Regions from separate parts of the Homo sapiens genome. Here all the other regions are linked to region 1. Evidence: fine-mapped expression QTL. A gene starts in region 1. Each other region holds a variant in brackets. All regions are shown on one strand. Distances are between the middles of the regions. Region 1 holds the start of SPEN-AS1 (SPEN antisense RNA 1). Region 2 overlaps ZBTB17 (zinc finger and BTB domain containing 17). Region 3 has its middle 5.4 kb from the start of UQCRHL.

Region 1 (8,173 bases):
CTCGAGTAGCTGGGATTACAGGTGAGCACCACCACGCCAGGCTAATTTTTGTATTTTTAGTAGAGGCCAGGTTTCACCACGTTGGCCAGGCTGGTCTTGATCCCCTGGCCTTAGGTGATCCGTCCATCTCAGCCTCCCAAAGTGCTGGGATTATAGGCGTGAGCCACCGCACCCGGCTCTTTTTTTTTTTTTTTTAAAATCATGATTTTAACAGAAGCCTCCATTCAAGGCGAGACATGCCTTTTATTTCTCTAATTGCGAGACACTTTTCTGAATCCTCTTGTCAGTTGCACCTTTTAATACAATTGAGGTGACACTGTTCTTCATGGTGACACTGGTCTTTCCCAAGAGGTTTCAGCTAATTCAGTCTATCAGATTTTACATCAGATTTTAAAATTTGCTTCAAACTTGGGTGCTTGTATTCAAATTCATGCTTCATAGAAAAATGCATATCAGTTCAACAGTTGACTAACTGCAGCCACGTTCACAGTACTGAATAGTTCATGAGTTTCGTTAGTAGGGTGTTAGCTTGACTTTCCTTATGTGATAATTGTGACAGAGAAATGGCCAGATGTAAATAGCCAATTTTACTTTTTTTTTTCTTTTTTTAAGAGAGGGGTTTCTCCTATGTTGCTGAGGCTGGAGTGCTGGGGCTTTTCAAGGCACAATCATAGTGCACTACAGCTTGGAACTCCTGGACTCAGATGATGCTTCTGCCTTAGCCTCTCCAGTAGCTGAGACTACAAAGAAACAATTTAGTTATGCATAGGTGACCTGAGATATTAGTGCCATTGGTTTTGGTGACAATATTTTCGAATTCAAATAGTGTCGTTTGTAAGTTAGTTTGTATTTAAGGAGATAATCGATGAGGCCAAGTATTTAAAATTGGCTGGGCTGGTGGTTCATGCCTGTAATACCAGCACTTTGGAAGGCTGAGGTGGGCAGATCACCAGGTCAAGAGATCGAAACCATCCTGGATAGCATGGTGAAACCCCGCCTCTACTAAACGTAAAAAAATTACCTGGGCGTGGTGGTTTGCGCCTGTAGTCCCAGCTACTTGGGAGGCTGAGGCAGGAGAATTGCTTGAACCCGGGAGACGGAGGATGCAGTAAGCAGAGATGGTACCACTTCACTCCAGCCTGGTGACAGAGTGAGACTGCGTCTCCAAAAAAAAAAAAAAAAAAAAAAAAAAAATCTGGCTTGCACCTGAAGCAGCACACCTCTGGTATTTCTGTGTATTTTTATTATAAATAATTTTATTTTTCTCTCGATATAGTTACCTTAATTTTATGGGTTTTCCTTGAATTTCTGTAAATTGGCCTTTATATAAAAGTTCAACTGGCCGGGCATGGTGGCTCACGCCTGTAATCCCAGCACTTTGGGAGGCCAAGGTGGGCAGATCACCTGAGGTCAGGAGTTCAAGACCAGCCTGGCCAACATGGTGAAACCCCGTCTTTACTAAGAATACAAAAAACTAGCCTGGTGTGGTGGTGCGCGCCTGTAATTCCAGCTACTCGGAAGGCTGACGCAGGAGAATCGCTTGAACCTGGGAGGCGGAGGTTGCAGTGAGCTGAGACAGCGCCATTGTGCCCCAGCTTGGCTAACAAGAGTGAAACTTGGTCTCAGGAAAAAAAAAAAAAAAGAGGCTGGGCGTGGTGGCTCAAGCCTGTAATCCCAGCACTTTGGGAGGCTTGAGGCGGGTGGATTACCTGAGGTTGTGAGTTCGAGGCCAGCTTGACCAACACAGAGAAACTGTCTCTACTAAAAATACAAAAATTAGCCGGGCATGGTGGCGCATGCCTGTAATCCCAGCTACTCAGGAGGCTGAAGCAGGAGAATCGCTTGAACCCAGGAGACAGAGGTTGCAGTAAGCCGAGAACACACCATTGCACTCCAGCCTGGGCAACAAAAGCAAAACTCCGTCTCAAAGGAAAAAAAAAAAAAAAGAAAGTTCAACTGTAGGTTTCAAAAGCTCTTAGGCCTGGAAAGGCCAGAGGTCTAATTCCTTTCTCTGTTTAAATATTAAATTATGGTCTGAGGGGAACAATATTGGATTCCTGTCTCATTTCCGTTTTATTCCTTCTATACCACAGCGATCAGCAAGGGTATCTTGCAAACGGTTTCGCAAGATTCTATATAAAAAAGTTGCTTAGGCCAGGTGCAGTGACTCCCGCCTGTACTCCCAGTACTTTAGGAGGCCGAGGCGGGCGGATCACCTGAGGTCAGGAGTTCAAGACCAGCCTGGCCTACATGGTGAAACCCTGTCTCTAATAAAAATACAAAAATTAGCCAGGTGTGGTTGCGGGTGCTTGTAATCCCAGCTACTTGGGAGGCTGAGGCAGGAGAATCGCTTGAGTCTGGGAGGCGGAGATTGCAGTGAGCCGAGACCGTGCCACTGCACTCCAGCAGCCTGGGCAACAGAGCGAGACCCCGTATTAAAAAAAAAAAAGTTGCTTCATGTTACAAGCCAGTGACTCTTGGATGGGATGCGTTTCTGAAGCCGTCGCTGTTCAGCAGAGCGGTGAGAAGGGCAACCTTTTTCTGATCGCTTTCCCAAGCAGGCAGGAATCTAAGTGTCCGGAAACGCCAGGAGCTGGCCGCCAGGTGAGCGGAGGACGAAGGGGTCCTGACTTCTAGGGGACAGGCCTTGGCAGCCGCTTTGACCCGTAGCCCTGTGGAAACCAATTGCATTTCTCTTCATATCTTCCACCAGGCCGGGGCCTGGGGTTGCCGCTGGAGGGGCTAAAGACCGCTCCTGCTTCCTCAGCCGCCCCTTGCCCGGCGCGGGAACCCGACCGAGAGCCCGCCAAGCAGCGGGACTCCACTAGCAGCTGCGCGCCTGCGCACCGGGGCCGAGCGCGCGAGCGTTCCTTCCCCGCCTGTAGTCCCTCACTTCGTCGCCCGGTCCGCGCGCCTGCGCGCCGGCTGGGAGGAACTCAGCTTCTCCGCCTTGGCAGGCGGGAGGACGCGCGCGCGCCCGCGGCGAGGGGGAGGCAGTGCGGCGGCGGGAGTCGGGCCGCGCGCGCCAGTGGGAAGCGTCCGGCTGCCACAGCGCCAGCTCCGTCGTAGTCGCTGCCGCCCGTGTCCCGCTCGCCCCTCCTCCCGCTCCCCCGCCCGCCCCTGCCCGGGCGCATGCGCTGCCGGAGCGCGAGGGTCGGCTTCGGGTGTGTGGTGGCGGCAGAGCTGAGCTGCGAGGCCCGAGAGTCAGAACCTGGGGGAGAGGGATGGTCTCTGCACGGGGGGGAGCCGGAGGAGCCGCCGCCGCTGCCGACGCCACCGCCGCAGCCGCCGCCGCCGCCGCCCCGGCACCCGCCTCCCGGCGCTGACGGTCTCGTACGAAGCCGGCGAGGGGGAGCCAGCAGCGGCGGTCGCCGGCACGCCGCCCAGCATGGTCCGGGAAACCAGGCATCTCTGGGTGGGCAACTTACCCGAGAACGTGCGGGAAGAGAAGATCATCGAGCATTTCAAACGGTGAGTGACACGAGGCCCGCGGCCGCGCTCGCTCCTCGGGCGCCGCTTCCCGCCCCGGCCCGTTGCCGGCCCCTCCCGGAGCGCGGAGCTGGTGAGGAGGACTCCGGCCCGGACCCACGGGCGCTGTGGGACCTCGTCAGCCGCTCGGCCCGCGTCGCGGCGTTGGGCCTCGGGTGTCGGCGGTGCGGGCGGCCAAGCCGCGCCGCCTTCGAAGAGCCCGCGGGGCCCCGGCGGCCGCGTCCGTGACGAGGGAGGTGACCGAGGCTCGGCCTCCACGCAGCCGGCGCCCCGGGGCTGCCCTCGCGTCAGCCCGGGAGTCGGTGGGAGATGCGCTGGGCGGCGGGGTCGCGTCCTTGCGCGCAGTGCCCGGCCCGGAGCAGCCGGGACCCGAGCCCGCCCGACAGCCGGGTCCGGCGCCGCCACTCCAAGCTGCTCTGCGGGCGCTCGGCAATGTCTGACTTCGGGAGGGTTCCGTGCGAAGGGAAAGGCGGTGCGAAAACAGAAGTCGCAGTAGGTACTGTGGTCGCGTCGCGGACCCGGAGAGACCATCTAGGACCTCTCCGGAGGATTTGCAGCCTTGAAACTCACTGGGAATGGCAAACGTTTCTCGTTTTTGCGGGGCTGGGTGGAGAGTGGTGTGAAATAAGTTGGTGCGCCCGTTTGGGCTTCCTCGTCCCCGGCGGAGGAGACCGCGTCTGACAGGAGGTTGCTAGCCCCGGCGCCCGTAGCCTCGGGTCGCACTCCCAGGCCGCCCTAAGACCCTGGTGCCCCCCACCCCTGAATTCCCGAATCAAACGGTAAAACATTCCAAACCTTTTACGATGAGAAGATGTAGCTTAAAAAAAAAACCTCCCCTGAATATTTTTGTGAATTATAAGAATAAATGTTGTCGTTGATACATCTTATTGAGTAGCGTGTAGTGCGTTTTCTTTGTGAAATGCCTGTGTACCGTAACAGATAGGCCTCCGCATAAAACACTTATTAAAATGACGATTGGCTTGGACTTGGTGCAGATTCAGAGGGACCATAGCAAATCTGTGGTTGTCCTCGAAAATGACAGTTTATTCCGATATTTAAGACCCTGGAAGGTTTTAAGTTTGGCTTTTAATTTCCCTTACTATGTAGTGAGTGAAGGAAATTATGGAGCGTCCTCATTAATGAGTCACCATGGGAAAAATAGATTGCGTCGCTCGCTTTGAGCCGCTTGGATAAGGAAATGGAAGCAGCGGCGGCGGAGCTCCTGTCTTTTAAATGGAGGATCATTGATTGTGTTGGTGGTTGCTGTTACTGGGGCATTAAACCCTCGCCGCTGGAGCGCGCGTCTGCGCGTGTCCGCGTGTGAAAAGGAGCCGGGAATCGTGGGGCCATTCATAACCTGCTTGAGCTGTCCTCGGCAGGCCGGGGGGAGGTGCGCGCTTCCAGGGACTCTCCCGGTGTTTACTACGTCGTGCCTGAGAAACCAGGCGGGGGCGGGGGGAGGCAGGGAGCAAAAATTCACCTCTGTGCCCTAGGATGAAGGGGAGACCACGGGCTGGATTGGGAAGCAGATGGGAACTTTCTCTTCCTGGCGCTGCTCCACCCCTTACCCGCCCCCCACCTCCTGGCTTCTCCTCGAGTATCGTCAGTGTTTTGATGGAAAAATCATTTAGGTGTACATTATTGGAGTGGAAAAACCACTTAGATGTGCTCACTTTAATCCCCTGTGGACTTTCTCTGTAGGTCTCTGCCTGGGAAATTCGTATGCACCGATGTACAAGCACGTGCATTGCAGCATTCGCTCGCTCCTCAGTGTTATGTGCCTAGACGTGTCATTTCTCATTATGCAGATTCCAGAGACATTGCATGCTTATGGCTGGGAGTTTGGCCCCTCTGCAAGATGAGGGGGCAGAGAGAAGAAAGAGGAAATCGTCCCAGGCAGCTTTGGAAGGGTTCTTAGTGGACGGTGCTGCGGTCTGGCTTGTGTGAATGACTTTCTAAAATGGCGGCCAGGACCCACTTTATGTGGGAATCAGCAGAGCCGATCTCAGAATGCACAGAGGGAGGAGGGGGCGGAGGATTCGAGCTGCCTTGGAAAGCGGCAGTCTGGAGGAACATTACTGTATTAAAAACGGCTTAGCTGGCAGTTTGCTCACGACTGCATTCAAAGGAGTATCTTACCTATTGCAGAGTAAAAGCAGATGCTACTGATAAAAGCAGGTTATTTTAAAACTAAGCAGATCATGTGTCCCTGAAATTCTTTTATTTTAAAGGTTTTTTTTTTTCATTTTTAAACAAATCTATTTAGTTGTTTAAATAGACAGTACATTTTTATGGGTTCAAAGCATGTGAAAGGTATACAGAGAAAAATCTCCACCCCTGACCCTGGAATTCCCAGTTGCCACACTTCCTCCCCTCACCCCCCAAAATCCAGGTAATGTCTATTTCTGGTTTCTTGTTTATCTTTCTGCATGTACAAGAAATGTTCCTGCTGATCCAGCTGTGGAGCTAAGTGGACCTTGTTTGGAGGAACTCAAGGCCTTTTATCCCTATTGTGGGATATATTTTGTAAAATGTGTGATTGCTACTAGGAGTAAAAGTGAAATCTGAATAATTTAAGTGAAAGGAATAAAAAGGTAGTTGTACCAGAACGATGGCTCTGCAAGAAAATGAAATGGTATTCACTTCTGGTGTCTTGTACAAATCAGAATGAGAAAAACCATGCAATACCTATATTAAAACTGAACTTTAAGTGCCTACTCTTATCCTTTTCCCTAGCTGATTACATTAATAACTGTTTTACAGGATTAAGAGGTGTACACTGGGAATACATTATATAAAACGTTTTCAAGATGAATGTTCTCTTAACAGTGATTAGGCTTTTGTAGTAAGTGTTTGCATTTTACAAAAAGATTAAACCAGACAGCTTTGGGGACAGCTTAGAGACATTTTAACAGAAAAAAGAGGTCAGTCAGTTCTTTAAAAATTTTTATATTTATTTTTAAATTTACATTCTGATTAGTTTTGTTTGTTTGTTTGTTTTTAAATGGACAGTAGATTGAGGGGTGGATGGCGATTTGGCTTTTTCCTCCCCAGTGCCAAAGAAAGACCAAATCCTTAAAACATAATCAGAACATTTACAAAAATTGGCTTTTCTTTTCTTGCAATAATAATAAATCTGTTGTTATTTTTACAGTTTTCAGTTTGCGGATTTAAAAAAATTAAATGAGAACTATTTCTGAATCGGGTTTTAGTTAACAAAGATTCATTACAGGGACACAATAGAGAAAGTCCTTTCCTTTGTATGTTAGCTGGGTTGAAGGGGGAAGGGAGGAGTTATACAATTGGTTCCTGTCTTTTAGTTATGAGAGGGAGAGAGGTGTCTGCAAAGGCGACTCCTTGAATTAGAATGAGCAAATGAATAAAACCCTTAAAATATTTAACATCTTTATCTTTTCAGATTTTAAGTAAGTTGCGAATTTAGTTCTTCCCATCCATCTCCAGTTTTAGAGACTAGGTTAAAGATTATGCGGAGGTAAACTGAGGTAGCCCCTCGTGTAAAAATATTGTTAAAGAGGCTGGGTGCGGTGGCTCACGCTTATAATCCCAGCACTTTGGGAGGCCGAGGCGGGCGGGTCACGAAGTCAAGAGTTCAAGACCAGCTTGGTGAACATGGTAAAACCCCGTCTCTACTAAAATACAAAAAATTAGCCAGGTGTGGTGGTGTGCATCTGTAGATCCAGCTACTTGGGAGGCTGAGGCAGGGGAATTGCTTGAACCTGGGAGGCGGAGGTTTCAGTGAGCTGAGATCGTGCCACTGCACTCTAGCCTGGGGGACAGAGCAAGACTCCGTCTGGGGAAAAAAAAAGAATGAGACCCATTTAAAAATGTAATTTGTTTTTGCTGATTTAAAATGTTTGATCACAGTGGTTTTCCTGAGTTAAATAGATGGAATAGCTATTACATTTTATGTATATTCAGATATCTTTACCTCTGGGACACAATATAAAATATTGAATTTCCTTTTCCTGACTACTAGGGATATTTTTAGACTTAAACAAATTTGACTCACTGTAGCCTGTATCATTGTTACGTCGCTTCTTCATTTGAGACCAGAAGGTTTCTATGAAACCACTTCTTGTCTATGGCCATACCACCCATACCACCCCCATCCCGTCTATGAAACCACCTCTGGTTTTGAATATTCTGATTTCCAATATCTATTTGCATGATAGGCTTTTGCACATTTTAAAAATAAAACAAAAAATTCAGAGTTATCTTAAAACATTAAAAATTACACAGAATAATTATAAAGCAATACAGAATAATACAGAAAAATTATACAGAATAATTATACAAAATAATAAAAAATAATAAAATGGGTTTTATTTCCCAAAAGGAACGCCCCTGGCAGATTGGAGGAAAATATAGGGCTCACTGCCAGGAAGAATGATAGTGTTTCGCTTGTGTGGAGGGCACCTTTTTCTAACTACCTTTGTTGCAGACTCGTGATTGCTGGGATTGTATTGTGTGGTATACTTATGAAGAGGTTTCAGGCTTGATTTATGGGACATTTTAAATCCTGTAAACACTAATCCTTTGGGAAAATTTATGTAGGAGGTTTTTCCAAATAGTCTTTCAAGTTTCCCTTTCCCCCTAGTTTGAAATTTTACTGAAATTTTTAAAAAATTGAAAATATTCCATGAAAACCAGCATATCCAATTGG
Region 2 (8,173 bases), 97 kb after region 1:
GGCTGGTTCCTGGGTGGTACAGCCTTTCTGTGGCATCAGTTGTAGCTGCCAGCTCCCCACCCACCCCACAGGGACCTATAGGCAGCATTAGAAAATAATCCAATTTATTCTCTCTAGGGAACAGGCCACCCTTCCCGGTTCCAGGGTGCCATCCATCCTTAAATAAACAGTCAGAAGGGCCGCCAGCTCACTCGGCAGGCGGGGGACATTCAGGAGCTGTAGGGGAGGTCTCTGCCAGTGCGGGCTGGCCCTCAGCCCCGTCGCGAGGGCGGAAGACCAGCTCCCCAGCCTGCAGCACCTGCCCGGCAGGCCACGTGCCACCTGGCCCATACTGCTGATAGAAGTCCGCGTCTGTCTGGAACATGACCAGTGCCTGGGCTGTGTGGATTCGCACATGCTGAGCCAGGCTGTTGGCATCCAGAAACTTGTCCCCACAGGAGTCACAGGCGTAGAGGATGTGAGTGTTGGGGTCTGTGGAGGTGGGGCAGCAGTCAGAGTGGGAAGGACCCCGGGCTCTGCCCACATTCACACCCGGGTGGCCCCCCTCACCTTCTTCCTGCACTTGCTTCACAGCTTTGCTGATCTCGGCCTTCAGGACTTCCGTCTCATCGGCTGTCACTGCAGCTCCCACCGGCACCACTGCGGGCAGAGTCGCAGGGCCTAAGGTGAAGGCACGGGCACTGCCCCATCATCGCCACCCTGGCAGCAAGCTGCCTGTGACTTCCCTCTGCTGCCCACAGCCCGCACCTGTGAGCTGAGTGACGGCTGTCGCTGCCAGTGCCTCGGTAGCCAGCGTGACCATGTCATCCACAGTGACCACGCTGACCTCACTGCCCTCCTCGGGCTCCAGGATCTTGATGCCTGCCTTGCCCTGGTGCACGGTCTTCACGTGGGAGCGCAGGTTGTCTACCCGGTTGAAGCCACGCCCACACTTATCACACAGGTAAGGCTTCTCTCCTGGGGGAGCAAGGTTCTCTCTTGCCTTTGTGGGAAGGGGCCGCAGGGATGGGGTGGGAGGCCCTCAATGACTCGTTTGCCCAGCAACCCTGTCTTTTACAGCAGGAGGTGCTCTGGGGTGGCTGCACGGGTGCCTCTGGTGACACTGGCACCTCTGGAAGCTCTAGGAAAATGGGGTCCTCATTTGAACAGAACTGCCTTCAAGGCCACCTGCAGCAAGAGCTAGCACCCGAGGCTGGGGTCTGGGGGGTCCCTTCCTTCCCCCTGCTCCCCACCTGGCAGCAGGGCCTGGGAAGGAACAGGCATGGTAGGGGCCACAGCTCACCAGTGTGAATGATGATGTGCTTGGACAGGTCCCCCACGTTCACGAAGGCCTTGCTGCACACGCTGCACTTGTGTGGGCGGATGTTGTCGTGGTGGCGAATATGATTGGCCAACTGGCTGGACTGGACGAATCTGTGGGGCCACAGGAAGGGACTCGCATGGAACTGCCCCAACCTGGGCCTCCTGCCTCACCCTCTAGACTGAAAAGGACCCCTAGGACCAGAGCCTGGGGCGTGGGCAGCAGTCAGCTCAGTCCCCAGCCAAGCCCCCAGTTTGTCTTCTGAGCCCCCTCACTGTGGGGTGTCTGGCCAGTGGGTGTGGGGGAGGGGGCAGGACCTCTTGCCGCAGCGCTCGCAGACGTAGGGCTTCTCCCCGGTGTGCTGGCGCACGTGGGCGATGAGGGAGCTGGCCTGGGTGAAGGCCTTACCGCACATCACACACTGGCATGGCTTCTCACCTGGGGACCGGGCAGAAGGTGTTGGTGCCTGCTCCTCTCCGTGCCCTCCCAGTCCTGGGCATGGCCGCTCACCACCCACCTGTGTGAATGCGGACGTGCCGCTGCAGAGCGCCGGGGTCTGCAAACTGTCGCTGGCAGTGGATGCACACGTAGGGCTTCTCCCCGCTGTGGATCCGAAGGTGCCGCTTCAGGTTCCCTGTGGCGAGACCGAGGGCGAACCTGGCGTGGGGCACCACCGGTGGCCGAGGAGCAGGGGTGTGAGGGCAGCCAGGGCAGCCCTGGCCCTACCTGAGGTGGTGAACTGCTTCCCACACTCTCGGCACTTGAGGGGCCCGTCAGCGATGTGGATCTTCAGGTGGGCCTTCAGGTTCCCTACCTGTGCCCAGGGAGGGGTCAGGGGGGCCACCCCACAGAGCTCGGCCCCGGGCCCCCTCACCTGCCCCTCCCACAAAGGAACAATTGACTCTCAGGCTTGCCAGGGTCCGTGAAGGGCTCTATCTCTCCTGGGTCAGGAGAGGTCCCAGGTCCCAGCGGTGAGAGGTAAGCCGCCCCACCCCATTTTTTCAGGACCAAACCCCGCCCTGAGTCGGCCTGCCCTCCGCAGAGCAACCGGGAGCTCCCCCGCGGAAGTGGCTCTCGCTGCGCCTGTTTCCTGGGTGAACAAGCTGATGAGCTCCTGGAGGCCGGGGCTGTGCTCCCCGCCCGCCCCACCACGTGGCATGCATGCGGCTGCGGCCACCGGCGGCTGCCAGGCGCTGGTTCCGGGAGGGGTCCGCACACCTGGTTGAACTTCTTGTCGCAGTGTGGGCACTTGTGCTCCTTGTCCGTGTCGTGGGTCTCCAGGTGGCGCATCTTGGAAGTGGGGTCGGAGAAGGAGCGGCCGCAGTAGTCGCACTGGTAGGGCTTCTCGCCGCTGTGCACCAGCTGGTGGCGCTTGAGGTTGCCCGAGGTGGTGAAGAGCTTGCCGCAGTCCTCGCAGCGGTAGCGCGCCTCGCCCGAGTGCCGCTTCTTGTGCAGGTTCAGCAGGCTGATGAGGCGGTAGCTCTTCCCGCACTCCTCGCAGCCGTAGGGCTTCAGAGGGCTGCAGGGCCAGAAGGCGACAGGAGGCAGGGCTCGCTGGGGCGTGAAAGGCCGGGCCTGGCAGGGGCCGGGGTAGGAGGCCGGCTTGGGGCAGTACCTGTGCGTCTTCTCATGGGCCTTGCACGCGGCCGGGTCGGAAAAGGCCTTGCTGCACTCCCGGCACGAGAAGGGCTTCTCCCCCGTGTGGATGCGGATGTGCCGCTTGAAGTTCCCCGTGTGCGTGAACTCCTTCCCACAGTCCTGTGGGTGCAGCGGGGAAGCGGGGTGTGAGGAGCAGCCGGTGGGAGGCCGGAGGGGAGGGACGCTGGCTGGGAGGGCTGGCCATAGTCTCCCTCACCTCGCACTTGTGGATGACGGAGCCGTAGGCCTTGGACTCCGTGCGGTCGCCGTAGGTGCCTGAGCGCAGGCCCCGGGCCTCGGAGCCGAGCTCCTGCCCCGAGTCTGTGCCCGCTGACTCCTCATTCTCGTTCTCCTCGGGGGCCTCTCCGTTCTCCAGCTGGGAACCCTCCTCCTTGACCTCAGCTGGCCCTGCGCCCTCCTCCTCTTGCTCCTCTTGCTCCTTTTGCTCCTCTTCCCCTTTCCGGGCGGGCTCCACCTCCATTTCTGCGGAGAAAAGGGCAAGCATGGAGGCGGCAGCCCTCTCTGCCTGAGCGCACGTGAGGGGCGCCGGCAACATGTGGAAGGGACAGTAAATGGCCCCAGCACTGGCCAAGGAAAGCCCCCGGGGGGGCCTGTGAACTGGGTATTTGCTGCTTGCGGGATGCAGGTAGGGGGCTTAGCCAGCTGGGGTGGGCGCTGTCGGCCAGCAGGCACTGGAGGGTTGCCGTGGGTGGCAAGGCACCCCTGCACGGTGCTGAAAGCCGGGAAGCAGCAGAAGCTCCAGGGCTTTGAAGGACGTGCCTGTGCTCACAGACACACGGCTAGCATGGTCAACCAAGGAACGACCTCGAGACTCAAGAACATGCGAAGACCAAGGTGTCCCAAAGCTGAAGTGCATGGTGACTCCAGGTGGGACTAGCTGGAGGCAGGAGGAGAGGGAGGCCCCAGTGCGCAGTGGAGGCAGGGCCCTGGGAGGATGCACCAGGTAGGGCCTGGTCCTGGCTGGGCGGGGCTACCTTGCTCCGAGCTCTCGGACAAAGCGGCCTCAGCTTCTGC[A/G]GCAGCCATGCCACTCGTGGGGTCTGGCTTGAGCTCCACAGGCGGCGGCTCCCGGGGCGCATCGGCTTTCTCTGTCTGCTCTGCACCTGGGTGGGGGAAGCACCGGAGGCTGGATTGCTACCCTCTGCCCAGGGGTCGGATACCTCTCCTGGACCAGCGCGCTGGTGGTGGCTGCGTGTGACCCAGGAGGGGAGGCCCCAGCACACCCCTAGCCAAGGCTGTTGTGTCTGCTCTGGTTGAAACAGACCCCCTGGAACACACAATAGGTCATTCTGGGTAACACAGGCTCAAGAGGTGCAGGTGCCCGTGCTACCTGCCCCAAGGCAGCCCTCACTACCCTGTGCCCAGGCTGCTGGGAGGTGACAGGACAGCCGGCTGGGTCCTTGGCATCTGACTCACCGCTGGCCGCACTCTGGGCCTGACCGCCGCGCTCCTCCTTGAGGTCCCTGCTGGGGCCTATGGGTGTGCTGCGTCCTGCCTGCTCCAGCCTGCTCAGCGTGCTGGTGGCCACCTTCTCCTCTTTGGCTCTCTTGTCCCCTCCTGGAGATGGAACAGGGCAGACCTGCCGTTTCCCATCAAGTGCCCGCCATCTGGAGGTGTGAGGTGGCCCAGAACTTGCTAGGTCTTCCTCGTCCTCCCTAGGGTACCTCTAAGTAGTGGTTTGCTGATTTGTTCATTCACCAAATTATTCACAGGGCACCCACTCCATGCCAGGCTGATGGCTGGGCACTGGGAATACAACAGTGATGGTTCCTGCTTGTGTGGGACATGCAGACCCCATGTGTGCACTAAGGGAGCTGATCAGAGGTCAGCACTAGGAAAGGGAGGAACGCAGCCTCTGGAAGTCTACAGCAAGGCACCTGGCCCATAGTGGGCATCTGAGGGCTTTTATCTTAGCAGCTAAGGGAAGTGGAAGGAGGGGCTCAGGAGAACAGACCCGCAGGAGGGTTTAGGAGCCTGCCCGTGTGCAAAGGCACTGAACCAGGCACGGCTCCCGGGTGCTCTGTAGGGGAAAGGCAGGCAGAGAGGCCACCCTCAGACCTGAGGCTAACCCTTGCCAGCACCCACAACCGAGGCAGGGCCAGATGAGGAAACTGAGACCCAGAAAGTCAGAGGCAGAGCCCACATCAAAAGCCAAGGTCTCTGGCCATCTGCTTGGGAGCAGCTGCCAATAACCTACCTTCTGTGGCCAAGGCCTCCGCATTTCCCCCAGGGCTGGTAGCCGGCTCAGCAAGTGACTTGAGGGCATGGCAGGCCGTGATGATGTCCTGCATTTGGAGGAAAGTGGCCACGGCCAGCACATCATCCACGTTCTCAGGGCTCAGGCTCAGCTTGGCCGTGTACATAAACTCCAGCACCTGCCCCAGGCCTACCAAGGACAGGACAGCTGTCACAGACCCACCTCAAGATCCGGCACCGGCAGCCTGCCCCACCACTCCACTCAGCAGCAGGACGCAGGGATTTAGGAACAGCTGAGTGGCAAGCCTGCATCGCCCCATCTCCTCTGTGGAGAGGAGGCAGGTAACCTGGGGGATCTCAGCACTACCAACAGCCCTTGAAAAGAAGTGCTCGCTGAGGGTCTGAATGCCTGCCCTGCACAGAGAACAAAAGGTGTGAACGCCCACCCTGCACAGAGGACAGGAGGTGTGAATGCCCACACTGCACAGGGAACAGAAGGTGCAACTGTCCGCCCTGCATGGAGGAGGATGGGCTGTGAATGCCGCCCATGCATGGAGAAAAGGAGGTGTGAATATGCACCCTGCACAGAGGACGGGGGTATAAATGCCCATCCTGCAGGGAGGACAGAGTGTGAATGCCTGCCCTGGATGAGGACAGAGGTGTGAATGCCCACCCTGCATTGAGGACGGATGTTGTGAACACCTGCCCTCCACACCCTCTTATTTGGCCGCTACACTTCACCAGTGGAGGACACTCCAACCTGACTTTCATCAGGGCTCTGCTACCAACTCTCTATCTGACTGACCTCCAGGCCAGTCACTGACCTCTTTGGGTCTCAGTTTCCACATCTATAAAATGGGAGAATAATACCTTCTCATGGCATGTCACGTCAGTCTGGGTTGGGAGTCTGAATCCAGGACCAGTTCCTTCCACAACCCCAAGGTCTTCCTGACACTGCTCCCAGCCCCTAGGCCTTCCCCATCACCTCTCCCCACGCTTCTAGTTAGCACTGGGGTAGATGCTTCAGGACTGACTCTGCCACGGAAAGGGGCCAGAGGGCATAGAGCCTGCCTACTCTCTGCCCCTCCCAATGAGGCCTTTCCTGTGTTCACTGCGGCCTAGAGCTCATCATGAGCCCTTCCTGCCCGTTCTCCCCTTACCACTCCACTACCAATCAAAACAGGCCCCCAAAAGGTGGGAGGAACTTAGTACTGAATTGCTCATGGCCTGAAGCCTGTGCGGGAGGCCTGTTGCATCCCACAGCCTGCAGGTGCTGCCCCTGGAGGGCCTAGCATGGCACAGGGCCGGCCATAGCTTCTGGCTATCAGCAAGCTCAGCCCCAGCCCTGACGGGGTACCTGCCGCGTTACTGATGTCCAGGTGCACCACGTCCTTCTGGTCCACGAAGAGCATCTTGAAGTACTCGCTGCAGGCCGCCAGCACTGCTTTATGAGCCTTAAAGTGAACACCGTCCACCACAAAGGTGCAGTCACAGAGAAGCCCCAGCTGCCGCTGCTGGTTCAGCTGTTCCAAGACATGCTGGCTGTGCTGGGGAAAGTCCATGGCTGAAGAAAGCCAAAGGGCGTTGGGGTTAGCACGGAGAAAGGACGTCAGACACGCTCAACAGTCACTCCTAAAGTCCCAGGCGAGCACCATGGAGAAGACAGAATTAAAACAAGTGAGGGCATTTCTGCCACAAAAGGGCAGTTCAGTCCAGATACCCCCTGCAAGCCAAACTCAACCAACTGGTGGCTCCTGTATTCCTGGGTTTACTGTCCAGGAAAAGTGGCCCAAACCAAAAAGCACTGGGGCACCAACACGAGGCAGCCGCCTCCGTATTCAGCCTGATAATAACATGAAAAAGCCAAAAAAGGGAACAAATACAGAACACTGAAATGTGTCATCATTTCAAAAATGAAACGACATGGTCACTTTAACATTTGTTACAAAAAGAATGCATGACAATCTCAGAATAAAGGACAGATGTTTCAATTGGACATGTTGGTCTTTAAGAAAACTTTCCTATTTTCTCATTCTCTCATGGACAGGTGAAGACAAGACGGTGTTTCATCAGCCAGTGTTGCAGAACTCGGCCCCTCTCAGGCTCTGCACGTACCCCATCCCCCGACAAAGCCTAGCTCTCCCTCTCTTTCTGATTCATGGGAACTACCTAGAGTTGCGGAGTCTTCTGACTCCAGAAACCTGTGTCCTGGTGGCCATCCCAGGAGAAACAACTTTGATCCTGACCCCAAGAGCTGCTGACCTGGCCACAACTTCTCTGTCAAGGGCCTCACTTAATGCCTGGAAATCCCACAAGTGAAAATGCTCAGGAAAATTCCATGGCCCAGTGCCGAGCAGTCTTGAACCGCACAAGCCGTGACTAAGTAACTATCTAAAACAGCTCTCCCTCCCGCCCCAACACCACCCAGAGTGGGCGTCAACATCAGCAATTGTCTAGGGAAAATAAGCGGGCCCTCTTTTCTAGAAAGAACCCATTTCAGAATGTTTGAAGAGAAAAATCAACACCCACTGTCTGGGGCCACATTAGACAGATTCAACTGGGCACGGCTGTCACGCCCTGGCCCAGGATCTGCTAAGGGGTAGTGAGTTCTCTGCCTACTCCTCCTCTTCTCTGAGGCCTGAGTCTGCACGGGGCTGGCTCCCCGGCTTCTGGGCAGGTGAGAGGGACACTTTGGGGCTCTCCGCCCCCAGTTTCGGCAGCTCTGCCCCGGCTCAGGCACTCCCCTGTGACATCAGCATCTTGGGGGGTGAATCACTGCCGCAGCTCTGAAGCTGCTGTGGCCATGCATGGCTGTCGGGCTGTGATGAGTCCGGAGGAAGCCACGCCCCTCACACCAGCACAGGTCGGCCTTGAAGGGCGCCAAGGCCTCCCACCACGTGATGTCTGGAAACTTTTCACAAGTGGGGGTATCTGCTGAGCGGGGGGAAGTGACGCAACAAATAACGGGGAGCATGGCAGTGGCAACAGGCATGAGCCACAGCGCACCAGCCTCCGAGCCAC
Region 3 (8,173 bases), 46 kb before region 1:
ACACCCTCTCTGGGTTATGGATTCCTGAGGAATCCATAAACACGCAAGGATTCCTCAGGAAAACACAATACGGGCCGGGCACGGTGGCTCACGCCTGTAATCCCAGCACCTTGGGAGGCCGAGGCAGGTGGATCACCTAAGGTCTGGAGTTTGAGACCAGCCTGGCCAACATGGTAAAACCCCATCTCTACTAAAAATACAAAAAATTAGGCCAGGAGCGGTGGCTCATGCCTGTAATCCCAGCACTTTAGGAGGCCGAGGCAGGCGGATCACCTGAGGTTGGGAGTTCAAGACCAGCCTGACCAACGTGGAGAAACCCCATCTCTACTAAAAATACAAAATTAGCCGGGGTGGTGGCACATGCCTGTAATCCCAGCTAGTCGGGAGGCTGAGGCAGGAGAATCGCTTGAACCCAGGAGGCGGAGGTTGCAGTGAGCCGAGATTGCGCCATTGCACTACAGCCTGTGCAACAAAAGCGAAACTCCGTCTCCAAAAAAAAAAAAAAAAAAAAAAATTATGGCCTGCCGTGGTGGCTCATGCCTGTAATCCCAGCACTTTGGGAGGCCGAGGCGGGCAGATCACCTGAGGTCAGGAGTTCGAGACCAGCCTGACCAACATGGAGAAATCCCGTCTCTACTAAAAATACAAAATTAGCCGGGCATGGTGGCTCATGCCTGTAATCCCAGCTACTCGGGAGGCTGAGGCAGGAAAATCGCTTGAAACCAGGAGGTGGAGGTTGCAGTGAGCTGAGATCATGCCACTGCACTCCAGCCTGGGCAACAAGAGCAAAACTCCATCTCAAAAACAAACAAACAAACAAAAAACACAATACGACCCAGGAATCCTGAACTGGTCCTTTACAGTTAGCAGGATCCCAAACTTCAGACCACAGGGAGGGGCTGGCTGAAGCAGGAGAGAAACCCATGAGGGGTCACCCTGAGGGCCCAATCAGAAGGCACATGGGGGGTCAGGGAGGGTTAAGAATGCTCTCTGGGGCCTGTGAGTCATGGGCCTGGCAGCTTGGGGTTTCCCAAGACTGCTCAGACGGGCTGTGGCATGCAGGGAGCTCAGCCAGAACCTCCCTTGCAAATCTGCACCCTTTCCCCCAGCAACCCCCCCGCTTCCAGCACCCCTCTGACCAGCAACCCCTCCTTGGCAAGGTAGAACTCCCAATGGCCCACCCTGAGATGGCTTCAAATCAAGTCCCACGGGCAGAAAGCAAACAGTGGCTCCACTCCAGTGTGCCTAGAGATCCCGCTTCATTCATTCATTTGTTCATTCATTCACTCACTCTTTAATAAAATACTCATTGACCCCTCCCATCTGCCAGTCACTGCCCTTGGCACAGAGCTCAGTTTAATGGAAAAAGGAGAAAAGAGAACAGTCCGTGCTGGGGAGGCACAGCCAGGAGTCCAGGAGGGCAGGCCATGGAGAAAGTGATGTCAGAGCTGGGCCTAAAGGGTGTGCAGGGGTCAGCCAGGCGAGGCTCTGGAACAAGAGCTATCCAGGCGCTTGCTCTCTGAGCTGGGCACAGCTGAATGTGGCTGAGCATGTGGGAAGTGCAGGATGAGGGCCAGACTCAGGCAGGAACCAAAGCAGCAAGGCTTCCTAGACTCTGTGCCAGGATTGGGGCTTTTTCCCAGGGGGGCAACGGTGAGAAGGAAGAACCCCAAGCCAGTAGAACCCCAAGCCGGTAGAACCCCAAGCCGGTAGGGCAGATGAACTTGCCATAGAGTCCAACTGCCCATAACCACAGAGGTGGTGGCCGGGCCCAGAGAGGGTGTGAGACCGGCCGAGCTCACACAGCTGGTTAGTGGCCAAGCCCTGGGTGTCCTGACTGCCAGAACAGGGCTTTCCCACCCCTCCCACCGCCTCTCTTATCTTCCAAGACCTACTTGTAAACACAGGCAGGCACCTGCAAACATCTGATCACCTCTGCGAGGAGGAGGATGAAGGTGGGGGAATGAAGGCGTGCAGGTGAATCAGGTCAGTGTTGCTCATAGGCTGACCCAGTGCGGATGGTCCCGTCAGTGGCAAGGAGGGCAGGATTCTGCACGGGTGAGAGCACTTGCCCTAGGGGGATGCAGTGAGTCACTGGGTGCAAAGTTCACACTCCTCCTTCCTCCTGGCTTTGATCTGAGTTCCCTGGAGGGAGGTGCAGCCTGGATTCCTGGAGGCGGGGCCATCTCCTCTCCCTGCCCTGCCCTGTGGGTCCAGATTGGGAGGCCGGCTGTCTCCACTCCTCTCTGAACTCCCACACACACCTTTTCGAGGCCCTAGTAAGTTTCCATGTTGGCCTCACTGGCGGGGTCAGACTTGACCTATCACCTAGGACATTCGCTGCAGGAAGTTGGAAGCTTCCCTCTCCTGCTGAGCTCAGCCATGCGTCTTACTGCCTGGTGCCACATTCCGTTCCCTCCTGTCTCTGGGAGGATGATCAGATCTGGCAGAGAGCCCAGGCCTGCCCAACCAGCGGAACAAAATAAATGACCGCAGGGTGGGACTCCGCGGACACCAAGACACCAGGGAACTCTTGGACTGAGCACCAGAGGAACTAACCCCAGTAGCTGCCCCCGAGCAAGGACCTACTACTGATGCTGCCAACAGCCCCGGGAGACAGAAATATTATCACCCTTATTTTATAGAGAGGAGAAAAGAGGGGTGCAAGGGTCATGGGGACAGTGACTGATCCTGACATCCACTAAGGGCCCTCTTGGGTTTTGTGTCATGAGTTGAAAGGGAAGCAGCTGGCAAGGTGGTGTGACATTGAGCTGCGCAAGTGCAGGTGAGATGCGGTGGAGGTGGAGCAGTGGGACTGACCAGTGTTGGGGTTTTGTCAGGACCGCAGGAGGGGGTGGGGGTGGGGCCTGACCATGAATTGTAGGCTGGGCAGGAAGGACACGGAGGGCAGGCAGGCTGAGGGACATGCAAAGGGGGCAGGATCCATGGACTGCTGGAGCCGGGGCACTGGAGGAAAGAAATGAGGTGAGGTCAGAGAGGTCAGTCAATAGATATTATAGAGGAGGGGCAGTCACTGGTCACGGGGGACAGATACTGGGGTGGCACTGCTCCTAGGGTGTAAACCCTTGGCACATAGCCTGCATAGAACAGGCCCTCAGAGAGTATTTGTGGAATGAATGAGTGGCTACTTGCAGTCTGGGGTTGGGTGACTCAAAGGATATTTTACTTTCTTCTCTCTAGCTTTTTTTTTTTTTTTTCTGAGATGGAGTCTCACTCTATTGCCCAGGCTGGAGTGCAGTGGGGCAATCTTGGCCCACTGCAACTTCTGCCTCCCAGGTTCAAGCGATTCTCCTGCCTCAGCCTCCTGAGTAGCTGTGATTACAGGCACCCACCACTATTCCCACTAATTTTTGTATTTTTAGTAAATACGGGGCTTCATCATGTTGGCCAGGTTGGTCTCAAACTCCTGACCTCAGGTAATCTGCCCACCTCAGCCTCCCAAAGTGCTGGGATTACAGGTGTGAG[C/A]CACTATGCCCGGCGGCCTGCTTTTATTTATTTATTTTTTTTAATAACAGCTTTACTGAGATATGAATCACACATACAAAATTCACCCTTTTAAAGCTTTCTTTTTTTTGAGACAGGGTCTCGTTCTGTCACACAGGCTGGAGTGCAATGGTGCGATCATGGCTCACTGCAGCCTTGACCTTCTGGGCTCAAGCCATCCTCCAGCCTCAGCCTCTTGAGTAGGCTGGACCATAGGCGCACACCATCTTGCCTGGATAACTTTTGATTTTTCTTTTTTTTTCTGTAGAGATAGGGACTCACTGTGTTGCTCAGGCTGGTCTTGCACTCCTGGGCTCAAGTGATTCTCCCGCCTCAGCCTCCCAAAGTGCTGGGATTACAGGTGTGAGCCACTGTGCCCAACTCTGATTTTTTTACAGTAAGCACATGATAAGGGAGGAGACCACCCCTCATATTGTCTTATGCCCAATTTCTGAATCCAAAGAAAGAAGTAGTAAAAACTAAAAGGCAGAAATGGAATCCACAGGCAGATAGCCCAGCACTGCACCCTGGGCCTGGAGTTAAAAATCAACCCCGACCTAACTCTTCTGTTATCTATAGATTTCAGACATTGTATGGAAAAGCGTCGTGAAAATCCCTGTCCTCTTCCTTTCCGTTCTGATTACCAGTGCATGCAGCCCCCAGTCACGTACCCTCTGCTTACTCAATCGATCACGACCCTCTCACGCGGACCGCCTTAGAGTTGTAAGCCCTTAAAAGGGACAGGAATTGCTCACTCGGGGAGCTCGGCTTTTGGAGACGTGAATCCACCGATGCTCCCAGCTGAATAAAGCCCTTTCCTTCTACAACTCGGTTTCTGAGGGGTTCTTGTCTGAGGCTCATCCTGCTACAATGATACTTTTCTAATATGAACCCATATATGTTTTTAAAATTCATTTTTCTAAAAAGTTAGGATAAATCCATGAGATAGAAAAATAATGGACCAAAACTTAGAGAAAAGATAACTACTGGCTGGGACCCAGGACTGTGGCCAGCCCTGGGCTGATTTGTGGTTTGAGCAAACCACTGCCCTTCCCAGAGCCTCGCCTGTGAGACGGGGGTTGGCAGAAGTGAGCAGGGCAGCAGCTAGGGATTGAGCTGAACTGATGGCATCTCAGGCTCTTCCCAGCCTTAACAGCTCAAGATTTTGGGGCAATCTGGATTCCCACACCTGGTGAGAGAAGCAAATTAAGGAGATGACCTGGTCTTTGGAGTTCTCTTCCCTAAGAGGATAAACACCACAATATTGACAGTCCAGGCAACAAGGCCAAATTCAACCCAGAACAATGTTTTAGGTCACACCATCTCTCATCAATCCCTAATTGAACTGAAGGTATTTAACACCTTATCTGTCTTTTTTTTTTTTTGAGACGGAGTCTTGCTCTTGTTGCCTAGGTTGGAGTGCATTGGCACGATCTCGGCTCACTGCAACCTCTGCCTCCTGGGTTCCAGCAATTTTCCTGCCTCAGCCTCCCAAGTAGCTGGGATTACACGCTTCCACCACTGCGCCCGGCTAATTTTTTCTTTTTTTCTTTTTTTTTAGTAGAGATGGGGTTTCTCCATGTTGGCCAGGCTGGTCTTGAACTCCTGACCTTGTGATCCTCCCGCCTTGGCCTCCCAAAGTGCTAGGATTACAGGCATGAGCCACCGTGCCCAGCCTTATCTGCCATTTTTTATCTTCCATTCTAAACCAGTCCTTCTCAAACTGAAATGTGCATACAAATCACCTGTGAATCTTGTTAATATGGAAATAATCAATAGGTCTGAGGTGGGACCTGAAATTCTACAATTCTAACAACCTCCCAGCAGATGTCAGTGTTGCTGGTCCCCAGACCACTATTTAAATATCAAGGCTCAGCTGGGCACCGTGGCTCACGCCTGTAATCCCAACATTTTGGGTGACCAAGGCGGGAGGATTATTTGAGCCCAGGAGTTCCAGACCAGCCTAGGCAACATCAGTGAGACTCTGTCTCTACAAAAAACAAAAATTAGCCAGGTACAGTGGCATGTACCTGTGGTCTCAGCTACTCAGTAGGTGGGAGGATCCCCTGAGCCTAAGAGTTCGAGGCTGCAGTGAGCTGTGATCGCATCACTGCTCTCCAGTCTGGGCTACAGGGTAAGACCCTGCCTCGAAAGAAAAAAAAGTGACAAAGCAGCATCCCTTTGTCACAGAGAAAACCTGGAAACTCCATTGTACTTCACGGAATTGCTAAAAGACGACACCAGACCATATAGGCTGCCTTCCTATTAACTTTTCCTTTTTTTTTTGAGATGAAGTCTCACTCTGTCACCCAGGCTGGAGTGCAGTGGCTCGATCTCGGCTCACTGCAACCTCACCGCCTCCTGGGTCTAATCAATTCTCCTGCCTCAGCCTCCCGAGTAGCTGGGACCACAGGCAAGCGCCACTACGCCTGGCTAATTTTTGTACTTTTAGTAGAGATGGGGTATTGGCCAGGCTGATCTTGAACTCCTGACCTCAGGTGACCCACCCGCCTCGGCCTCCCATTGTGTTGGGATAACAGGCGTGAGCCACTGAGCCTGGGCCCTATTAACTTGTCTGTCACCTGTCATCTCCCTCTTGTCTTTCATTACTACTTGCTTGTTGTCTATCGTGTGTCCCCTCTACTGCAATGAAAATCCTTTGAAGGCAAGGGCACTGCTGGGTCCCTAGCTGCTGAGCACATATTTAAGGGCTAACTAAATATTTGTTGGATGAATGAACCTCAACATTTTGAGGTAGTAAGTAAAAAAGCAAGTGACAGAATGGTATGCAGGCTTTTTTTTTTTTAGAAGTCTTGCTCTGTCACCCAGGCTGGAGTGCAGTGGTGTGATCTCGGCTCACTGCAACTTCTACCTCCCAGGTTCAAGTGATTCTCCTGCCTCAGCCTCCAGAGTAGCCAGGATTACAGGCGTGTGCCACCACACCTGGCTAATTTTTGTATTTTTAGTAGAGATGGAGTTTTGCCATGTTGGCCAGGCTGGTCTCAAACTCCCAACCTCAAATGATCTGCCCACCTTGGCCTCCCAAATTGCTGGGATTTCAGGCATGAGTCACCGCACCCAGCCCCATTTGTGTTTTTTAAAAGTTTGAGGCCAGGTGTGGTGGTTCACACCATTAGTTCTTTGGGAGAACTGTTTGAGGCCAGGAGTTCGAGACCAGCAGCCTGGGGAACATAGTGAGGTCCTGACTGAAAAAGTTTTTTCTTTTTTTTTTTTTTTGAGACGGAGTTTCATTCTTGTTGCCCAGGCTGGAGTGCAGTGATGCGATCTCAGCTCACTGCAACCTCTGCCTTCCGGTGGTTTCAAGCGATTTTCCTGCCTCAGCCTCCCGAGTAGCTGGGACTACAGGCACACACCACCACGCCCAGCTAATTTTTTGTATTTTTAGTAGAGACGGGGTTTCACCATGTTGGTCAGGATGGTCTCGATCTCCTGACCTTGTGATCCGCTCACCTCGGCCTCCCAAAGTGCTGGAATTGCAGATGTGAGCTACCGCGCCTGGCCAAGTTTTTTTCTTAATTAAAAAGGGCCAGGTGTGGTGGCAGCAGCTACCATTTTTTAGTATGTACATGCATTTGCTTTGTTTTGTTATGCACAGTGCCTGGTCATAATATATTTTTTAAAGAATAATGCCAGTGTGGTGGCTCATAATGCCAGTGTGGTGGCTCACACCTGTAATCCCAGCACTTTGGGAGGCCAACATAAGTGGACTGCTTGAGATCAGGAGTTTAAGAACAGCGTGGGCAACATGGTGAAACCCTGTCTTTACAAAAAATACAAGAAGTTAGTTGGGTACAGGCGTGGTAGCTCACACCTATAATCCCAGCACTTTGGGAGGCTGAGGTGGGCGGATCACCTGAGGTCAAGAGTTCGAGACCAGCCTGACCTACCTGGAGAAACCCCGTCTCTACTAAAAAAAAAATACAAAATCAGCCGGGCATGGTGGTGCATGCCTATAGTCCCAGCTACTTGGGAGGCTGAGGCAGGAGAATCACTTGAACCTGGGAGGCGGAGGTTTTGGTGAGCCAAGATCACACCATTACACTCCAGCCTGGGCAACAAGAGCGAAACTCCGTCTCAAAAAAAAAAACAAAAACAACAACAAAAAAAAACTCCCTTAAGGTGATGCTCCTGCGGCCAGAGTTGAGAGCCTCTTTTTTCTTTTCTTTTTTTTTTTTTTTTGCTCTCTGTTGCCCAGGCTGGAGTGCAGTGGCACAATCTCAGCTCACTGCAAGCTCCGCCTCCTGCGTTCACGCCATTCTCTTGCCTCAACCTCCCGAGTAGCTGGGACTACAGGCACCCACCACCACACCCGGCTAATTTTTTGTATTTTTAGTAGAGACGGGGTTTCACCGTGTTAGCCAGGATGGTCTCGATCTCCTGACCTCGTGATCTGCCCGCCTCGGACTCCCAAAGTGCTGAGATTACAGGCATGAGCCACCGTGCCCAGCCTGAGATTCTGTTTTAAGATGGCTTTTGATTTATTTTGATGGAGGTAATGTATCAATTTTTTTCCTTTATGGTCTTTATTTATTTATTTATTTATTGAGGCGGGGTCTCATTCTGTCACCCAGGTTGGAGTGCAGTAGCGAGATTTCTGCTCAATCGATCCTCCCACCTCACCCTCCTGGGTAGCTGGGATCACAGGCAC

The links.
Region 2: its variant is fine-mapped to the expression of SPEN-AS1 in blood mononuclear cells (TOPMed, PIP above 0.99). The same link has a PIP of 0.9 or more in lung and whole blood.
Region 3: its variant is fine-mapped to the expression of SPEN-AS1 in whole blood (TOPMed, PIP above 0.99).

What each region holds. Positions count from the first base shown.
Region 1 is chr1:15,844,680-15,852,852 of GRCh38, forward strand. SPEN-AS1 (SPEN antisense RNA 1) reads right to left here and starts at 3,468. Exons shown (of 2, transcript NR_024279.1): 1 at 3,429-3,468. SPEN (spen family transcriptional repressor) reads left to right here and starts at 3,028. Exons shown (of 15, transcript NM_015001.3): 1 at 3,028-3,471. The coding sequence starts at 3,389. RefSeq lists enhancers at 179-278, 2,158-2,670, 2,671-3,182, 4,606-5,200, 7,580-7,649 and silencers at 2,765-3,334, 3,515-3,934.
Region 2 is chr1:15,941,782-15,949,954 of GRCh38, forward strand. It overlaps ZBTB17 (zinc finger and BTB domain containing 17), which reads right to left. Exons shown (of 16, transcript NM_003443.3): 3 at 6,510-6,716; 4 at 5,154-5,342; 5 at 4,373-4,513; 6 at 3,934-4,059; 7 at 3,156-3,421; 8 at 2,916-3,058; 9 at 2,519-2,819; 10 at 2,027-2,114; 11 at 1,818-1,934; 12 at 1,618-1,738; 13 at 1,283-1,413; 14 at 748-957; 15 at 550-639; 16 at 88-471. The coding sequence starts at 6,714. The coding sequence ends at 188. LOC124903855 (a long non-coding RNA gene) reads left to right here and starts at 8,150. Exons shown (of 3, transcript XR_007065486.1): 1 at 8,150-8,173. RefSeq lists enhancers at 343-1,542, 6,744-6,853, 7,454-7,623, 8,115-8,173. The variant A/G (reference allele first, on the strand shown) is at 3,974.
Region 3 is chr1:15,798,210-15,806,382 of GRCh38, forward strand. No RefSeq gene overlaps it. Among named protein-coding and RNA genes, the nearest start is that of UQCRHL, 5.4 kb to the right of the region's middle. RefSeq lists enhancers at 2,025-2,319, 5,485-5,986. The variant C/A (reference allele first, on the strand shown) is at 3,487.